3 linked regions of the Homo sapiens genome follow. The protein of the gene in region 1 purifies or fractionates together with the protein of each later gene. This does not show direct contact. Each region holds a gene or a part of one and is shown on either strand. Other genes may lie near its edges.

The links.
Region 2: the proteins of MND1 (region 1) and NSUN4 purify together in Homo sapiens (affinity purification with mass spectrometry; 2 studies listed by BioGRID and IntAct, with this or other methods). This does not show direct contact.
Region 3: the proteins of MND1 (region 1) and MTERF4 purify together in Homo sapiens (affinity purification with mass spectrometry; 2 studies listed by BioGRID and IntAct, with this or other methods). This does not show direct contact.

The regions. Positions count from the first base shown.
Region 1 is NC_000004.12:153,354,642-153,361,763, forward strand, and holds part of MND1 (meiotic nuclear division protein 1 homolog), read left to right. Parts: intron 1-1,012; coding exon 1,013-1,070; intron 1,071-3,832; coding exon 3,833-3,981; intron 3,982-6,861; coding exon of another isoform or gene 6,862-6,966; exon of another isoform or gene 6,967-7,122. UniProt on the Homo sapiens protein: Required for proper homologous chromosome pairing and efficient cross-over and intragenic recombination during meiosis.
Region 2 is NC_000001.11:46,343,688-46,350,809, forward strand, and holds part of NSUN4 (5-cytosine rRNA methyltransferase NSUN4), read left to right. Parts: exon of another isoform or gene 1-607; intron 608-1,113; coding exon 1,114-1,457; intron 1,458-3,233; coding exon 3,234-3,388; exon of another isoform or gene 3,389-3,446; intron 3,447-7,122. UniProt on the Homo sapiens protein: Mitochondrial RNA cytosine C(5)-methyltransferase that methylates cytosine to 5-methylcytosine (m5C) in various RNAs, such as rRNAs, mRNAs and some long non-coding RNAs (lncRNAs).
Region 3 is NC_000002.12:241,094,980-241,099,318, reverse strand, and holds the end of MTERF4 (transcription termination factor 4, mitochondrial), read left to right. Parts: intron 1-1,891; coding exon 1,892-2,076; intron 2,077-2,880; coding exon 2,881-3,321; 3' UTR 3,322-3,748; downstream 3,749-4,339. UniProt on the Homo sapiens protein: Regulator of mitochondrial ribosome biogenesis and translation. Binds to mitochondrial ribosomal RNAs 16S, 12S and 7S and targets NSUN4 RNA methyltransferase to the mitochondrial large ribosomal subunit (39S).

The sequences.
Region 1 (7,122 bases):
ACAGGCACGCACTACCACACCCAGCTAATTTTTTTGATTTTGTGGAGATGTGGTGCAAGAGTGGTCTCACTGTGTTACCCAGGCCAGTCTCCAGCTCTTGAGCTCAAGCAGTCCTCCCAAAGTGGTGGGATTATAGACAGGAGACACCATGACTGGCCTATAACTAGTTTTTATACTTAAGTGGGAAGATTGTTCTTTATGTTCTGATCTCCAAGAACTTTAAATAATTGTATGCTGCTGGCCAAGCATGGTGGCTCATCTCTGTAATCCTAGCACTTTGGGAGGCTGAGACGGGAGGATTGCTTGAGTCCAGAAGTTCAAGACCAGCCTGGGCAAAATGGTGAGACCCTCTCTCTAAAAAAATTTTTAAAAATTAGCCAGGCATGGTGGTGCATGTCTGTAGTCCCAGCTACTCAGGAGGCTGAAGTGGGATGATTGTTTGAGCCCTGGAGGTCAAGGCTGCAGTGAGCCATGATCGTGCCACTGTACTCCCATCTGGGCCATAGAGTGAAACCATGTCTCAAAAAAAAAATTGTATATATATGCAAATTGTAAATGTATGCAAAAATCTCTTAAGTTCTATTGAAGGTATGGAATGAGATAATCAAAGAGTTTCTAATAAGCTCTAAAATGCTTGATTCTATTATACTGTTCATTTCCAGGCCAATTTTTTAAATACAATTTTTCATGAACATAAAATTATGATGTATATATAAATATGTAGTAGAACACGATAGGGTGACTATAGTTAATAATATATTGTATATTTAAAAATACTAAGAGTGAAATTGGAATGTTCCTAACACAAAGAAATGATAAGTGTTTGAAGAGATGGATACCCTAATTACCACAATTTCATCATAACACATTGTATACCTATATCAAAATATCACACATACCCTGTAAATGTATACAACTATTATGTACCCATAATAAAAATTTTTAAAAATGAAAATATACATAGTAGAAAATAAACACGTGCTTTTCATTTTCTTTAAAACCCTTTAAACAGAAAGATGTATTTCAATTAAAAGACTTGGAGAAGATTGCTCCCAAAGAGAAAGGCATTAGTAAGTACCAAAGTTATACTGGAATGTTTTGGGAAATATACTGGGATGTTTTGGGAAATATCTTAATATTCATTAAGTCATCTTTTCTGCAACAGTCTTTCACTTTATGGAAAACCTAAATTTCTAGAGACAAAGAAATCATCACCATCCAAAGATAACCACTGTCATGTTGTCCTTTATTTTTCTGTATAATACATCCTGTATATTACATTTTGAATATATATCCCTGTCATTAAATATCCTTTTATAACATAAATGATTGTATAGTATCCCATTGCAATAAAAAAATACTTTTAAAAATCTAGTTGATAAGCTGGCTGGTAGCGCACACACACTTGTAGTCCCAGCCACTCTGGAGGCTGAAGCGGGAGGATCACTTCAGCCCAGCTAGGCAACATAGCAAAATCCTGTCTTTAAAATAAAAATCCAGTTATTAGACTGGTTTCCAATTCTTTTGCTGTCGAAAACAATGTGTTGACAGGCATCCTTCTACATATCTATTATTTTTTGTTTGGCTGTATTTATAAGGTGGAATTTCCCCAGGAAAGATATGTATAAATTGGGCTGGGCGTGGTGGCTCACGCCTATAATCCCAGCACTTTGGGAGGCCAAGGCAGTTGGATCATGAGGTCAGGAGATCAAGACCATCCTGCCTACTAAAACCCCGTCTCTACTAAAAATACAAAAAAATCTTAGCCGGGCGTGGTGGCAGGCGTCTATAGTCCCAGCTACTCAGGAGGCTGAGGCAGGAGAATGGCGTGAACCCAGGAGGCAGAGCTTGCAGTGAGCCGAGATCGCGCCACTGCACTCCAGCCTGGGTGACAGAGTGAAACTCAGTCTCAAAAAAAAAAAAAAAAAAAAAAAAGATATGTATAAATCTGAAGTTTTAGATACAGATTGCCACGTTTCTCCACCCATACTGAGAGTACCCATTCAAGTATCCTTGAATTCTTTATTGTATTTTTTAGTGTTTTTAATTTGGTAGTCAAGTCATGTCTAATTGCTTTATTTTCGATTTCTTCAGTTATTAATGGGGTTGAACATTTTTCTCATATATTGGCCATGCATATTTTATTTTATTTATTTATTTATTTGTTTATTTATTTATTTGAGACAGAGTCTACTCTGTCACCCAGGCTGGAGCCCAGTGGTCCAGGCTGGAGCCCAGTGGTGCAGTCCTGGCACACTGCAACCTCTGTCTCCCGGGTTCAAGCGATTCTCCTGCCTCAGCCTCATGAGTAGCTGGGATTACAAGCTCCTGCCACCATGCCCACCTAATTTTTGTATTTTTAGTAGAGATGGGGATTTGCCATGTTGGCCAGGCTGTTGTCAAACCGCTGACCTCAAGTGATCTACCTGCCTTGGCCTCCCAAAGTGCTGGGATTACAGGCATGAGCCACCATGCATATTTTATAGATGCACATTGATGTATTTTTTGTGTGTCTTTTGTTGTGTTGTTTCAAAATGAAAAAACCTCTTTTATTATGAGTATACATACAAGTGAAACCAGACAACCACTGAGAGTCCCTCACACTTTTATGTACACCACACAATTATTCTCTTTACAGTCATCAGTGAACAATTGGTTCTGCTACTTCTTAAAGATATGCAAATTTCTTAAGTTTAAATACACAGTTGACCCTGGAACAACACCTATGTTGTTCAAGATTGGGATACCAATCCCCCACACAATTGGAAATCTGCATGTAATTTTTGACTCCCCCAAAACTTAACTACTGATAGCCTGCTGTTGACAGGAAGCCATACCATGTATTTACTATTCATTAAGTGGCAGTGGATCATCATAAAGTTCTTCATCCTTGTCATCTTACATTGAGTAGGCTGAGGAGGAGGAGGAAGTGGTGTTGCTGTCTCAGGTGGCAGAAAATCCATGTATATAACTGGACCCATGCAGTTCAAACCTGTACTGTTCAAGGGTCAACTATACAATATTAATTACACCAGTGTCCTAATGTCCCCAGACAAATTGTAGGTAATGGAATCTCAACTGTATCTTGAAGGATCAAAAACAAAAAACAAAATTCAATCCAGTCTACAAGATGGAAAAATTTATTGTATTAACTAAATTCCTTTTCTTCTTACCTATTTTCCCTCCCAGTTATTGACAATTTTTTTCTGCAGTATAAGATGATGGCCAAATTACCCAACATCTTTTTTAAAAAAGAAACATTATTTAGAAAAGGAAAAGATACCATATAGCAACAGACTATGAGTGTTAACACCATTAAAATTATTTACTAAGCACTGATGCTAGCATCTTCTATTACTAGATAATCTATTGGGAGAGAAAAACTTGCATTTCTGTAGTTTTGTTTTGCTTTTTCAAAGGCTTCTCACAAGTAACATTTTATTGACATTACTGCTATGCACCAAAGTAAGTATGGAAATGATCATATCTAATAGATTTTTTAAATTAGGCATAAAGAACAATTTGCCCTAGAGTCATCCAGTGTTACTGCTAAGAGTTAGGATTAGAACTCAGGTCCTGTTCTTAATCCTGTATATTACTTGTTTTCCCCTAGGCTCCTGTATAAGTCATGCTTTGCTTAAGGATGGGGATACATTCTAAGAAATGTTTCCTTAGGCAGTTTCATTGTTGTGCATGTTGTTATTTTTAAGAGCTTATTAACTTTTTAACTCTTGATTTGTGATATGTTTTGCAAGTGTTTCCCCAGTTATTTGTCCTTTAATTTTATTTATGGTGTTTTTCTAACATAGAGTCTTTAAAAATTGTCTCTTAGCTGCTATGTCAGTAAAAGAAGTCCTTCAAAGCTTAGTTGATGATGGTATGGTTGACTGTGAGAGGATCGGAACTTCTAATTATTATTGGGCTTTTCCAAGTAAAGCTCTTCATGCAAGGAAACATAAGTTGGAGGTTCTGGAATCTCAGGTAAGCTGCCACAGTTAAAAAGAATAGAGTTGCTTTATAACGGAGAGTTGTTTTACTTCATCCTCTTTTTGTTTAGCAGTTTCTTTTGAATTTTTGATATGCATTATTTGACTGAAAGTCTAAAGATAATTAACATCTGTTTCTCCTAAACAATATGAGGAACTTAGAACGTTTTAATTTTCATCTTCCCATATGTCAAGATATTGTTTTTGTTGTTGCTGTTTTTATTGTTTTTTAATTTTCTCTTTATCAATAGATGGTTTTTTGGAAGCAGTTTTAGACTTACAGAAAAATATTGATGGAAAAGTACAGAGAGTTCCCAAACGTGCCCTTTCTCCCTCACCACGCACACAATTTTCCCTGTTATTGACATCCTATACTAGTGTAATATGTTTGTCACAATTGAGTCAATATTGATTTATTACTAACTAAATTCCGTAGCTTACATTAGGGTTCAGTCTTGGTGTTATACATTATGTGAGTTTTGACAAATGCATGATGACGTGTATCCACAATTATAGTATTGTACAGAATAGTTTCACTGCCCTAAAAATCCGCTGTTTCCTACTTGTTCATCCCTCTCTTCTCCCGAAACCGTAGCAACCACTGATCTTTTTACTGTCTCTATAGTTTTACCTTTTCCATATAGTTGGAATCATACAGTATGTAACCTTTTCAGATTGGCTTCCTTCCCTTAACAAAATGCATTTGAGGTTTCTCCATGTCTATTAATGGCTTGATGGCTCATTTCTTTTTATTGCTGAATAATATTTCGTTATATGAATATACCACAGTTTGTTTATCCATTGAGCTATTGAGGAACATCTGGGTCACATCCAAGTTTGGGCAGTTACAAATAAAGCTGCCATAAGCATTCATGTGTAGGTTTTGTGTACACATAAATTTTCAACACATTTAGTACCAAGGAGCGTGATTGCTGGATTGTATGGTAAGTTTATGTTTACTTTCTAGGAAACTGCCAAAGTATCTGTTTTTGCATTCCCAACTACAGTGGGTAAGAGTTACTATTGGTTCACATCACTGCCAGGATTTGGTGTTGTCAGTGTCTTGTATTTTAGCCATTCTAATAGATGTGTAGTGGTATCTCATTGTTGTTTTAAATTGCCATTCTCTAATGACATATGATTTGGAAGATCTTTTTTTTTTTTTTTTTTTTTTTGTGAGACGGAGTTTCACTTTTTTTGACCAGGCTGGAGTGCAATGGTGCGATCTCAGCTCACTGTAACTTCTGCCTCCCTGGTTCAAGTGATTCTCCTGCCTCAGCCTTCCAAGTAGCTGGGGTTACAGGTGCACACCACCACACCCAACTAATTTTGTATTTTTAGTAGAGACGGGGTTTCACCATGATGGCCAAGCTGGTCTTGAACTCCTGACCTCAGGTGATCCACCCACCTTGGCCTCCCAAAGTGCTGGGATTACAGGCATGAGCCACCACACCCAGCCCTGGAACATCTTTTTTTATGCTTATTTGTCATCTATGTAAAAGGAGGTGTTTAGATCTTTTGCCCATTTTTCAATTGGGTTTTTGTTTTCTCGTTATTGAGTTTTAAGAGTTCTTTGTATATTTTGGACACCAGTTCTTTATCAAATATGTGTTTTTCAAAGATTTCCTCTGAGTCTGTGACTTATCTTTTCATTATCTCAACAGCATCTTTCACAGAGCAGTTTTCAATTTTAATGAAGTCCAACTGGTCAATTTTTTTCTTTCCTGGGACATTCTTTTGGTGTTGTAACTAAATAGTCGTGGCCAAATCCAGGGGCATGTAGATTTTCTCCTATGTTACCTTCTAGGAGTTTTGTAGTTTTGCATTTTACACTTAGATTTATTATCCATTTTGAGTTAATTTTTGGGAAAGGTGTAAAGTGTGTGTCTAAATTCAATTTTTTGTACATACATGTCCAAAGTAACTGTATTTTAGTATAATTTACTTCTTTTCTGTATGTGTGTGTGTGTGTGTGTGTGTATATATATATACACATAAAAATACACACATATATACACAAAAATATATAAATATTTTTATATAAATAAATAAATAAATAAATACTATAAATATTTTTGTGTGTGTGTGAGACAGGGTCTTGCTTTGTGTGTATATGTATATACACATATATACACACATATACATATACACATATATACACATATATTCATATATACACATATATACATATATACACATATATATACACATGTATATATAACTACTAAAGTACCCAGGGTCTTGCTTTGTCACCCAGTCTGGAGTGTAGTGTCGCAAACATGGCTCACTGCAGCCTCGACCTCCCAGGCCCAAGCCATCCTCCCGCCTCAGCCTCCTGAGTAGCTGGGATTATAGGCACACCACCAAACTCTGCTAATTTTTGCACTTTTTTGTAGAGACAGGGTATTGCCATGTTGCCCAGGCTGGTCTTGAACTCCTGAACTCAAGTGATCCACCTACCTCAGCTTCCCAAAGTGCTGGTGGGTGAGCCACTGCGACCGGCCTGTAACCCTGTGCACTTTATGGATTTAAAAACACTTCAAGAAGGAATCCGTACTGAAGGACATCCTTTAGTAATTTGTTCAGCCAGAGTTTAAGAGTGGTAAACTCTCAATCTTTGTTTGAAAATGTCTAATTTATCATTGCTTCCCGAATATAGAATTCTTAGTTATTTTTCCTCAGCATTTTGAAAATATTACTTCATTGTCTTGTGGCATATGTTGCTAATGAGATGTTTTGCTATCATTCTGATTGTCTTGTTTTCCTTAGTAATCTCTCTTCTGTTTGCTTTTAAGATTTCCTTCAGTCTTTGATGTTATGTTTTGATGTTTTATCATGAATCCGAGTTTGCATGTTTTTATTTCCTCTTCTTTAGGACCCTGGCTGCTGCTTCCATGAAATAATTAAAGTCTCCTATTATAGAAAATTCTGGCTGGGCGCAGTGGCTCACGCCTGTAATCCCAGCACTTTGGGAGGCTGAGGCGGGCAGATCACGAGGTCAGGAGATCAAGACCATCCTGGCTAACACGGTGAAACCCTGTCCACTAAAAATACAAAAAAAATAGCCGGGCGTGGTGGTGGGTGCCTGTAGTCCCAGCTACTGGGGAGGCTGGGGCAGGAGAATGGCATGAACCCG
Region 2 (7,122 bases), on another chromosome or scaffold:
TCCTCAACAAAACACAAGTCAGGGCCAGAGTGAGAGTCCCCAACTTAGCATAAATGAGCACCAGGGTGAGAGTCCCCAAATTAGCAGAGGTCAGGGCAAGAGCAAGAGTCTATGATGGCAAAAGTCGGAACCGGAGCAAGAGTCCCCAACATGGCAAAGGTCAAGGCCAGAGCAAGAGTCCCCAACATAGCAGGAGCCAGAGCAAGAGTCCCAGCGAGGCAAAAGTCACAGAGCAAGAGTCCTCACCATAACAAGAAATGAGGGCCAGAGCAAAAGTTCTGACCAGACCAAAAATCTAGGCCAGAGCAAGGCATAGATAGTAACAAGATTGCCAGCTATAGCAAGCATCCCAGCTGCAGCAACCAGGACCGACTTGTGCACTCCTCATCTGAAGTCTTCATTTCTCTTTTACTCTGCCTCCTTGTTCTTGTCCTCTTGTCCCCTGCTACCCCCATAGCAGTCATCCTAGAAGTCCCTGTTTTGGTTCACACCTCAAGATTCTGTGGGCCCTCCTTATCCAACCTTTCTGGGGTCTGGGAACTCTCCCAGCATGACCCTCAAACCTCTGATTCTAAGCATGGTGGTGCTAGTCACTGTGTGACGCTAGGTAAGTTACCCACATCTCTTCATCAAATTGAAATGTTGTTAATTTTTTTTTGTATCTTACTGAGCTATCAGTTGTAGTGCTCACATAAGCTAGTAGACATGAAAGTGCTTTGAAAATAGAACTGTTCAGAAGAAAAGGGCCTTTTGCTTTTAAGTTCAAAGCTTCCCAGAGCCTCCATAGTTTCTCCTAATCTTCTGCAGGCTCTCCTCAAGAGTCCTCTCCTGAGCTCCCATATTCCTAAGTTCCTCTTTCTCCAAGGTCCCCCTTCTTGATGACCCCCGCACAGTACCGTGAGAGTTACATCTTTATCTGACAACCCTGGGATGGGAAGGCCCACTCTCCACTACTTTTCCCTCTCACACTTCTCTGGCAGGCAGGCAGGATGCAAAAGCAGGAGTGGGCACTAGCTGGATCCAAGTTTGCCCCTAGGCTCTGAGGTGGGGGTCAGGTAGTAGGGGGTAGAGTCAAGACTGGGAAAACCAATAAGCCTGTCCTCTCTCTTTTAGGCTGCCACAGAGCCCAAATTCCCTGCTGTTCGACTGGCTTTGCAGAATTTTGACATGACTTACAGTGTGCAGTTTGGAGATCTTTGGCCATCAATCCGTGTCAGTCTCCTCTCAGAGCAGAAGTATGGTGCACTGGTCAATAACTTTGCTGCCTGGGATCATGTAAGTGCTAAGCTGGAGCAGCTGAGTGCCAAGGATTTTGTGAATGAAGCCATCTCCCACTGGGAACTGCAGTCTGAGGGTGGCCAATCTGCAGCCCCATCCCCTGCCTCCTGGGCCTGCAGTCCGAACCTTCGATGCTTCACTTTTGACAGAGGGGATATCAGTCGCTTCCCTCCTGCCAGGTAGGATCTGGAGCCATGACTGGAGCGGTCCTGAGTGTCTGCTGGAAGTAGACATGTTGAGACCCAGCTTCTACCCTCTGTAATAAGGACCATAATATTGCTAATATTTATGGCATGTTTATACAGACTAGGCATTTTTTTGAGGTGCTGTACATATGTTATCTCTTTTTGTTCTGTCAGCAGCCTTATGAAGTAGGTAATATTATTGCTGTTTTACATTTGGAGAAACTGAGGTACAGAGAAGTTAAGATTCTTACTTGCTTTAGGTCCCTCAGATGGTAAGTGGTGTGACTAATATTTAGACCCAGAACCTGCACTTTGAACCCACTCTGCTCTGTGCCTCTGGTAGAAAACAGCCACCTTTTACATGAGCACTCACTGGGCCCTCTCAAGTTGAAATGTGTTATTCACAGCAGTCTTCTCATTTTGCCCTCACAGCCACCCATCAAAGTGAATAGGAAAAGTAACTTCATGGTAGCAAAGAGGTAGTGGGACTTTCCTAGGAAATAGGGCTGGTCTAGGGGCACAAACTTGGTATTAGACTGGGAAAAAGAAAGGAGAAGTTCAGTTTCTTGATTCAATCCTCATGTATATGAAGTTGAATGAGAAAAGACTGCAGAATCAAATGCTGAATTATGCTTTAACAATTAAGGAGAGCTCAATGTTAGTTGTAGGGTATGGGAATTGATTTTTGAAAGACTGATTTATTTATTAAAAAATATTGGCCGGGTGTGGTGGCTCACGCCTTTAATCCTAGCACTTTGTGAGGCTGAGGCGGGCGGATTGCCTGAGCTCAGGAGTTTGAGACCAGCCTGGGCAACATGATGAAACCCTGTCTCTACTAAAATACAAAAAAATTAGCTGGGTGTGGTGGCGTGCGCCTGTAGTCCCAGCTACTTGGGAGGCTGAGGCAGGAGAATTGCTTGAACCCAGGAGGTGGAGGTTGCAGTGAGCTGAGATCGTGCCACCGTACTCCAGTCTGGGCGACAGAGCGAGACTCTGTCTCAAAAAAAAAAAAAAAAAAAATTATCTACCAAATGCTAGGCATTTAAGTGCCTTGATGAACAAGCCCTCATAGAGCTTCCAGTTTAGTGAGGAAGACAGCTATTTAAAAACAATAATTGGCCAGGCACAGTGGTTCACACCTGTAATCCCAGCACTTTGGGAGGCCGAGGCGGGCAGATCATCTGAGGTTAGGAGTTCAAGACCAGCCTGGCCAAAATGGTGAAACCCCATCTCTACTAAAAAATACAAAAAATTAGCTGGGCATGGTGGCACAAGCCTGTAATCCCAGCTACTTGGGAGGCTGAGGCAGGAGAATCACTTGAATCTGGGAGGCAGAGGTTGCAGTGAGCCAAGATTGCGCCACCGCACTCCAGCCTGGGCAACAGAGCGAGACTGTGTCTCAAAAAAAAAAAAAAAAAAAAAAATTAGCCAGGCATGGTGGCGGGCACCTGTAATCCCAGATATTCAGGAGGCTGAGACGGGAGAATCACTTGAACCTGGGAGGTGGAGGTTGCAGCGAGACGAGATCGTGCCACTGCGCTTCAGCCTGGGTAACAAAAGTGAAACTCCGTCAGTCAATCAATCAGTAAATAAATAATCATTCTGGCTCCCGTATAGATGAATGAATAAGTGAATAAGTAAGTGTGGGTCTGAAAAATGAGTTTTTGGTGATTGGAGCTCAAGCCCCAGAGGGCATAGACTTGGTGGCCTAGACTCCCAGTGGGTGTCCTGACCTGGAATTTAACAATAAAGTGGTCTCCTCTTTTCCAGACCTGGCAGCCTGGGTGTCATGGAGTACTACCTGATGGATGCTGCCTCCTTGCTGCCTGTTCTGGCCCTCGGCCTGCAGCCTGGGGACATCGTGCTTGACCTATGTGCAGCTCCTGGGGGAAAGACACTAGCGTTGCTTCAGACTGGCTGTTGCCGTAAGTCAGGGTGCTGGTGTGTTGGGCAGAGAGAGCTCCCCACCTCACCTAGTCCCAGGTACATTTAATATGGTAGGTTCGGCCAGGCGCAGTGGCTCCCGCCTGTAATCCCAGCACTTTGGGAAGCCGAGGGAGGCGGACCACCTGATGTCAGGAGTTCCAGACCAGCCTGGTCAACATGGTGAAACACCATCTCTACTAAAAATACATAAATTAGCTGGGTGTGGTGGTGCACTCCTGTAATACCAGCTACTCAGGAGGCTGAGGCAGGAGAATTGCTTGAACCCGGGAAGTGGAGGTTACAATGAGCTGAGATCCTGCCACTGCACTCCAGCCTTGGCGACAGAGTGAAACCCTGTCTCACACACACACAAAAAAAGAATATGGTAGGTTCTCTAGTCCCAAAGTCAGAGTGGAGGGTAGTACTTACTTTCTAAGCTTGTGTATTTTTTCATTAGTTCCTCTCTTTCTCTGTCAATTGGTCAAGAAAGATTGCTGAGCAAGTTCTCTGAAGTCAGATTGAAGTAGGGCTCTGATCAGTTGATCACATGATACACACTCCTCTTCATCTGTTTACTTTTCCTCTAAGATTAAGCCCATTTCTTTAGCCTACCAACTAAAATGATAAGATCTGCCTGCAGCCACCATTTATATGCTTTATATGTCACTCTTCTAGGCTTTATGTGCTTTAACCTTACTCTGCTACTCTCTGTTGCCTTTGCTCTTGTTAAATTTTCTCCCTGGAATTCCCTCACCCTTGGCTGTCCAAATCCTTTTGACTTTCTTTTTTTTTTTCTTTCTTTTTTTTTCTCTTTTTTTCGAGATGGAGTCTCACTCTGTCACCCAGGTTGGAGTGCAGTGGCACGACCTCGGCTCACTGCAAGCTCCGCCTCCTGGGTTCACGCCATTCTCCTGCCTCAGCCTCCCTACTAGCTAGGACTACAGGCGCCCACCACCACGCCCAGCTAATTTGTTTTTGTACTTTTAGTAGAGACAGGGTTTCACCCTGTTAGCCAGGATGGTCTCAATCTCCTGACCTTGTGATCTGCCCGCCTAGGCCTCCCAAATTGCTGGGATTACAGGCATGAGCCACCGCGCCCGGCCCCTTGTGTCAAGTACTCACTTCAGCCATCCACTGGCTGATATCCTGCCTGCCCAGTCATCCTTTTGACTTTCAAGCCTCAGCTCAAGTGTGCCACCTCCTGGACGTCTGTCCTTACGACCTCTGCTGGCCGGTTCAGAAATGATGCCTGTCTCCTACGCTCCCACAGCATGGGTATCGCCCTTGCAACATTAGCCTTGCCTTAGGGCTTTACTAGTTATATATCTTCTCCCTCTTAAAGATGATGGATTCTGGCCGGGCACGGTGGCTCACGCCTATAATTCCAGCACTTTGGAAGGCTGAGGCGGGTGGATCACCTGAGGTCAGGAGTTCAAGACAAGCCTGGCTAACATGGTAAAACCCCGTTTCTATTAAAAATACAAAAAATTAGCCGGGCCTGGTGGTGGGCTAATCCCAACTACTTGGGAGGCTGAGGCAGGAAAATCGCTTGAACCTGGGAGATGGAGGTTGCAGTGAGCTGAGATCACGCCATTGCACTTCCGCTTGGGCAACAAGAGCAAAACTCTGTCTCAAAAAAAAAAAAAAAAAAAAAAAAAAAGTGGATTCCTTGGGGATAGGCCCACATCTTATTTGTCTCAGTAAAGTAGCCCAGCGAAGGCCTTGTGCACTGTTTTTTTTTTTTTTTTTTTTTTTTGAGAAGAAGTTTCGCTTTTCTACCCAAGCTGGAGTGCAGTGGCACGATCTTAGCTCAATACAACCTTCGCCTTCTGGTTCCAAGCAATTCTCTTGCCTCAGCCTCCTGAGTAGCTGGGATTACAGGCACCCACCACCACACCCGGATAATTTTTGTATTTTTAGTAGAGATGGGGTTTCACCATGTTGGCCAGGCTGGTCTCGAATTCCTGACCTCGCAATCCACCCACCTCGGCCTCCCAAAGTGCTGAGATTACAGGTGTGAACCACCGCGCCCAGTCTTGTGCACTGTTTTTTTTGGTTTGTTTTTTTGTTTTTTTTTTTTTGAGACGGAGTCTTGTTCTGTCACCCAGGCTGGAGTGCAGTGGCGTGATCTCGGCTCACTGCAAACTCCGCCTCCCGGGTTCATGCCATTCTCCTGCCTCAGCCTCCCAGATAGCTGGGACCACGGGCACCCGCCACCATGCCCGGCTAATTTTTTTGTATTTTTAGTAGAGATAGGGTTTCACCGTGTTAGCCAGGATGGTCTTGATCTCCTGACCTCGTGATCCGCCCACCTTGGCCTCCCAAAGTGCTGGGATTACAGGCGTGAGCCACCGCGCCTGGCGCCTTGTGCACTGTTAAGTACTCACTTCAGCCATCCACTGGCCGATATCCTGCCTTAAAATAGATAGTTTTTTTCCTTTGGCCCCTGACAAAGGGCCGTAATTTACACACCTAACCTGGAGCTCAGCCAGGCTTCTCTTGCCGTGTGCCCAAGCCCTTCTGTTGGACCTAGACCCTTCTTTTCCAGGTCTTGTCAGCCAGCTTGCACAGTTTGAGTCAGCATCCAGCCTTATGATAGGCATTGGTTGATTCAGAGAGATATCACATTCGGTCATAGCCTTCTGGAAGTCCAGAGGGAGAGAAGAAAAGGTGGGGTCATGGGCTTAATGAATCCAATGCAAGAGAGCCCAGCCTGTGTGCTGGACAATTCTTATCTGACTGAATGCTGTGGGAATCCATTAGAAGGGAGATGAGTAAGGGTAGGGTTACTTGGAGGAGGAGGAACTTGAACTAGGAGGAGGAAGAAGGGCAAAGAAGAAGTAATTGAGAGTTGTTCTTCTAAGGCATGCTTAACTATCAGCACCTCACCTTCATCCCAGCTCCTCATCAAGCGACAACTCTTGATCCGAGGAAAACGGGATCACAGAATTTGTATAAGAAGGGAAATTAGTGTTTACTTAGTCTAGCCCTCATATTTTATGGAGGGAGAAATTGAGTTCTGTGGAGATTAAATAAATAATACAAGAATTGGAGGTAGAGCCAGAACTGGAACCCATCTTTCTTTTTCTCAGTTCATATCCTTCTGCAAATTCCTCTAGAGCAGAGAATACAATTTTTACTTCTTTGAGTGCCCTCAAAAATGGAGACATTGGCCGGGGGGCGGTGACTCACGCCTGTAATCCCAGCACAAGCTAGGAGGCTGAGGCAGGTGGAATACTTGAGTCCAGGAGTTCGAGACTAGCCTGGGCAACATAGACCTCATCTTCATTAAAATAAAAAAAAAGGAGACATTTATTTATGGGATTACTAAGCTGGTTCATAGTAGTGACCACTATTAGATAAGGTGGACACTTGCATCTCGCATTCTTTACCATTCCCACCCTACCTTGTTGTTCTTTGACTCAGAGGCCAGGTATCAAGTGTCATTTATCATCAAGCTTGCAATATTTTTCTCATAGTAGCACTAAGAGCAAAGTGAGATATTTCTTGAACTCATGTCTACCAATAAAGAGAAAATGAAAGGTAGATGGTAAATCAGAATTAGGTTTGGTTGCATTTGATAGAAAACCTAACTAATTGGCTTAAAGAGGAAACATTAATTTATCTCTTACATAAGAGAAGCTGAGATATAGGCACTCCAGGTATGGAGGCTCCACAATTATCAGGGACTTAAGCTCCCTTTTTCCTTTTGCAACGTATTTTGTTGCTAGTG
Region 3 (4,339 bases), on another chromosome or scaffold:
CAGATCACTTGAGGTCAGGGGTTCAAGATCAGCCTGGCCAACATGGTGAAACCCTGACTCAACTAAAAATAGAAAAATTAGCTGGGCTTGGTGGCACGCACCTGTAATTCCAGCTACTTGGGAGGCTGAGGCATGAAAATCGCTTGAACCCAGGAGGCGGAGGTTGCAGTGAGCTGAGATGGCGCCACTGCACTCCAGCCTGGGTGACAGCAAGGCTGTCTCAAAAAAAAAAAAAAAGATTTTATATAGTGTGACAGGAGCCAGAGGTGGGGAAAGAGCAGCCTAAGGTGAGATGGATTAGGGGAGGTTTCTGAGTATGTCAGTGTTCCTGGAGAGGACTGTATAATTTGGCTTGGAGGTGAGGAATAGGAGTGGCTTTCTGTGCAGAATACATTTTGAGAGGGAAGGAGGAGGAGTTAAGACTAGAAGAAAAAATTGAGTGCCAGGGCAGAGACTCTTGTCTGCCTTGTTCACCGTGGGATCTTCAGCACCTAGTGCAGTGGTGGGCATATGGTATGTGTTCAGTGGGTTGATGCTGATAATGTGATGTTGATAAATATGTGTACATATAGCATTTGATGTTTAAATCAACATGAAATGGTCTTAGTGCTCTGTCTCTGTGATGTGATGTCAAACCAACATCTCTTGTAAAGACTTAGATTCTAGTCGAGTGTTTAGATTTACTCTGGAACATGAGAGATCTGGCCAGGTTCCTGGGATACTCGTGGAGTGGCCTTCCCTTCTATTTATCCCCCACTCCTGCCCCCAACAATATTCACATCTCAAGGATGCTCAAAGTTCCTTGAATCTCTTTAAGGGCCTTCTGGAGGAGTTGGGGGTCTCCAAGGACCCTTACCCACTTTGACCAGAGGAGTTCCACTATTATTTCTTTGCATTATTGACTCTTCCTGGTAAGATGTTTTTTGAGGCAGTGGTAGAAGGTTTAGGATCCACCATTTCACAGCATCTCTACAGGCCTCCTTCTCTAGAAGATAAGAAAAAGGTAGCCTTGTATATTTTTCTTAACAGATTCTTACAGTGTAATCTAAAAGTCTAAATATATTATGTGTGGTGGTGATTAATTAGCAAACTCAGCACAGCCTTAAGAAATGAAGATAAACCTAAACTGAAATTCCTCACATATTAAGATAATCACTAACTCAAATGTTAGGAAAATTTTAATTAACAGTTTAAATAGTTGACTTTAAGTTTCCCATTACTGAATTTTGCTCAGCTATCCCTAGGAAGGCCTGGAATAGTCCCAGTTTACACCAGTTAGTGCGGTTTTAATAGGGCCTCTTTCACTCAAGGTGCCCTGGCTTGGAGAAGATATATGGTGACCCTGGTAACCAGGACGTCAGCATTGGTGTTGTGTGTCCTCATGATTACTATTATTGTTATTACTGTTATGATGACGATGGTGATGGAACTCCTTTTCATTGAGTTCAGCTTGAGAATGTTAGTTGTGAATGCTTCAATGACTATTTTATTATAGAAGGAAACATCAACCCAAACCAGCAATATGGAGGAAACTACTCTCCCATATTACTCTCTGATCTTTCCAGTAAATGCCTGGGAAATTCTTTTCCAAGTGAGGAGGGCAAGAGGAGACCCAAAATACAAAGTTGGCACCTTTCAGGTGGGAGGCCAGAATAAAGCAGGAATATAGGGAGGGAAGGATGGTGAGTCTGAGGAGTGTCAGGAAGTCAGTGGGGAGATGTATCATTTCCATGGTGCTTCTGGGAAGATAGATCTGAAATTGCCACTTGCTCTGTGGAAGGAGAGGATCCTTGTTTGTTTTTAAATGTGGACTTAAATTGGGTGCAGCTAGCTCCTTGAGTTTCTGGAGTATCCTGAAATTATATGCTTGCCTTTTTTGAATGTTCTGCAGGGAAATTAAAGAGGGTGCTTTACTGTTGCCCTGAAATTTTCACCATGCGCCAGCAGGACATTAACGACACTGTCAGGCTTCTCAAGGAGAAGTGCCTTTTCACGGTACAGCAAGTCACCAAGATTTTGCACAGTTGCCCCTCTGTTCTTCGAGAGGACCTGGGTCAACTGGAATACAAGTTTCAGGTGAGAATGACTGATAGCGTGATTAGCGTAGTTTCAGGTGAGAATGACTGGTAATGGGATTAGCGTAGTTTCAGGTGAGAATGACTGGTACCGTGATTAGTGTAGTAACAGCAAGTTTCTCAGGTTTTTCAAATGTAGTGAAGGTCAGTTATATGGATAAGAAGCCTCGGACACCTCATATTTGAGTGGAGGAAGTGAAAGACTAGATTCTCTGCATACATCAGCCAAAGAGAAATCTTTAATTTCTTTACTACAGATCAAACCTATTCTTCAACTTTTCTGCCATTAATAATGAATGATCCAGTCCTATTCTTAGAGTCTAAGTGGGGACTCTGAAATAGCTAATTTTAAAATAGCTGAAACCTTCCTGTCCTTAGAATCTATTTTGCATGTTGATTTTGAAAATGTAATTTTAACAGTTGTCCGATTTTTTGGTAATAATTATGACAACTTAGGTCGAATTTCTAGATGTTTTCTGAATGTTTTGCCTATTCTTTCCATATTCATCCTTTTCCTTCCCCATTTAAAGAAAAATACCACCTCTTCCTTCTGCCCCTTCTCCCTCCTGCCCCTTTTCCCTCCCACCCCTTTATTTCCTGCTCCATGTTTCTCAGGATGAATTTGAAAGTGTTTTGAAACTGCTGGCTGTCACACAAATGTCAGTATCCTAGACTGGGTATTCGCTGTTGTCAATTAGGCAATTCTTTTTGAATCCTTTTGTACAACTTAAGTTTTTATGGTTTATAGAATGATAGGTTTCAATACTCTGTATCTGGGACTCCTAAGTGTGTTTGTGTCTTCCAGTATGCATACTTCAGGATGGGAATTAAGCATCCAGACATTGTAAAGAGTGAGTACTTGCAGTATTCACTAACCAAGATTAAGCAGAGACACATTTACCTGGAGCGCCTGGGACGGTACCAAACCCCTGATAAGAAGGGGCAGACACAGATCCCTAACCCATTGCTCAAGGACATTCTCAGAGTTTCAGAAGCTGAGTTTTTGGCCAGGACAGCCTGTACTTCTGTTGAGGAGTTTCAAGTTTTTAAGAAGCTCCTGGCTCGGGAGGAGGAGGAGTCTGAGAGCAGCACATCTGATGACAAAAGGGCAAGTCTGGATGAGGATGAGGATGACGATGATGAGGAGGACAATGATGAGGATGACAATGATGAGGATGACGATGATGAGGACGACGACGAGGCGGAGGACAATGATGAGGATGAGGACGACGACGAGGAGGAATAGCTGTGATGGAAGGACTAGAGCGAAAGGGCCCAGAGATATCAAGGAAGCTTTTCATTCTCTTAAAGCTTTTGGGTCCTTTACTTGAATCTTCTCAAGTTATTTTTTATTCTAAAACTGGTCTCTTGATGAAAAAAATTATAAGTCACCTGAGAGGCAGACAGATCAAACCAAACAGGAAACAGGAAATGCATGTTTGATCTGTTGTCACGTGTCTGTGGGGAGGGCCCTGTCCCATCCTGAATAAGATACTTATGTTGAGCTATTCACATCAAGGGGACTCAATATATCAACAATTGGTTTTATTTTTTTCTCTTTTGAATATGTTGGTGATAATTCCGTGACAGTTGGAAGATGGGGTTCATTCTTCCGGTTCAGGAATCACTATGTATTTCCTTCTTGTGATAAAAATAAAATTACGAGAAGGCAATGTGAGGTTTTAGTACATCATAGCACTTTATTTTATGAAAACATGTAGCAGATTTTCCACAAAAATGCTTATTTTTAATCCAAAAGTATATTGCTTCATAATGGTATTCAGTGCACAGCAGAGTAAAAGAAGTTAATTCATGATGTACTGGTTAATTTTGCATGGCTTCTTAAGGCCAGCAAAATGCTGGCAGTTTTCTTTATCTTTGTGAAGAACAGGCCCTTCCTGTTTGGGGAAGTTGGCTTTTATGTCAGCTCTTGGCCAGTGGTCACTTCCAAGCCTGGTGTCTCCGGCCCTGTAGTCTGTAGTGCCAGACTGTGCTGGCCTGGAGAGTGCTGGGGCAGGTGGAGGCCAGGGAATGGTCCCATACAGTTATCTCCCCTGCCCTGGTTACAGACAGCTTCGAGAACCAGAGGAGAAGAGCATAGGGTCATGGAGCAGGTGGGCTGAAGCCAGGGCCACAGGGAGCAATCCGTGACCCCCCAAGGTGGGTGTGGGGGGGGGGGGGGGCGTGTCACCTTAGGGAACTCAATGAGTCCGAAGAACAATTTGAAATGTTGGGAAAAGAGAAGAGGAATTTGATGTCAGCCG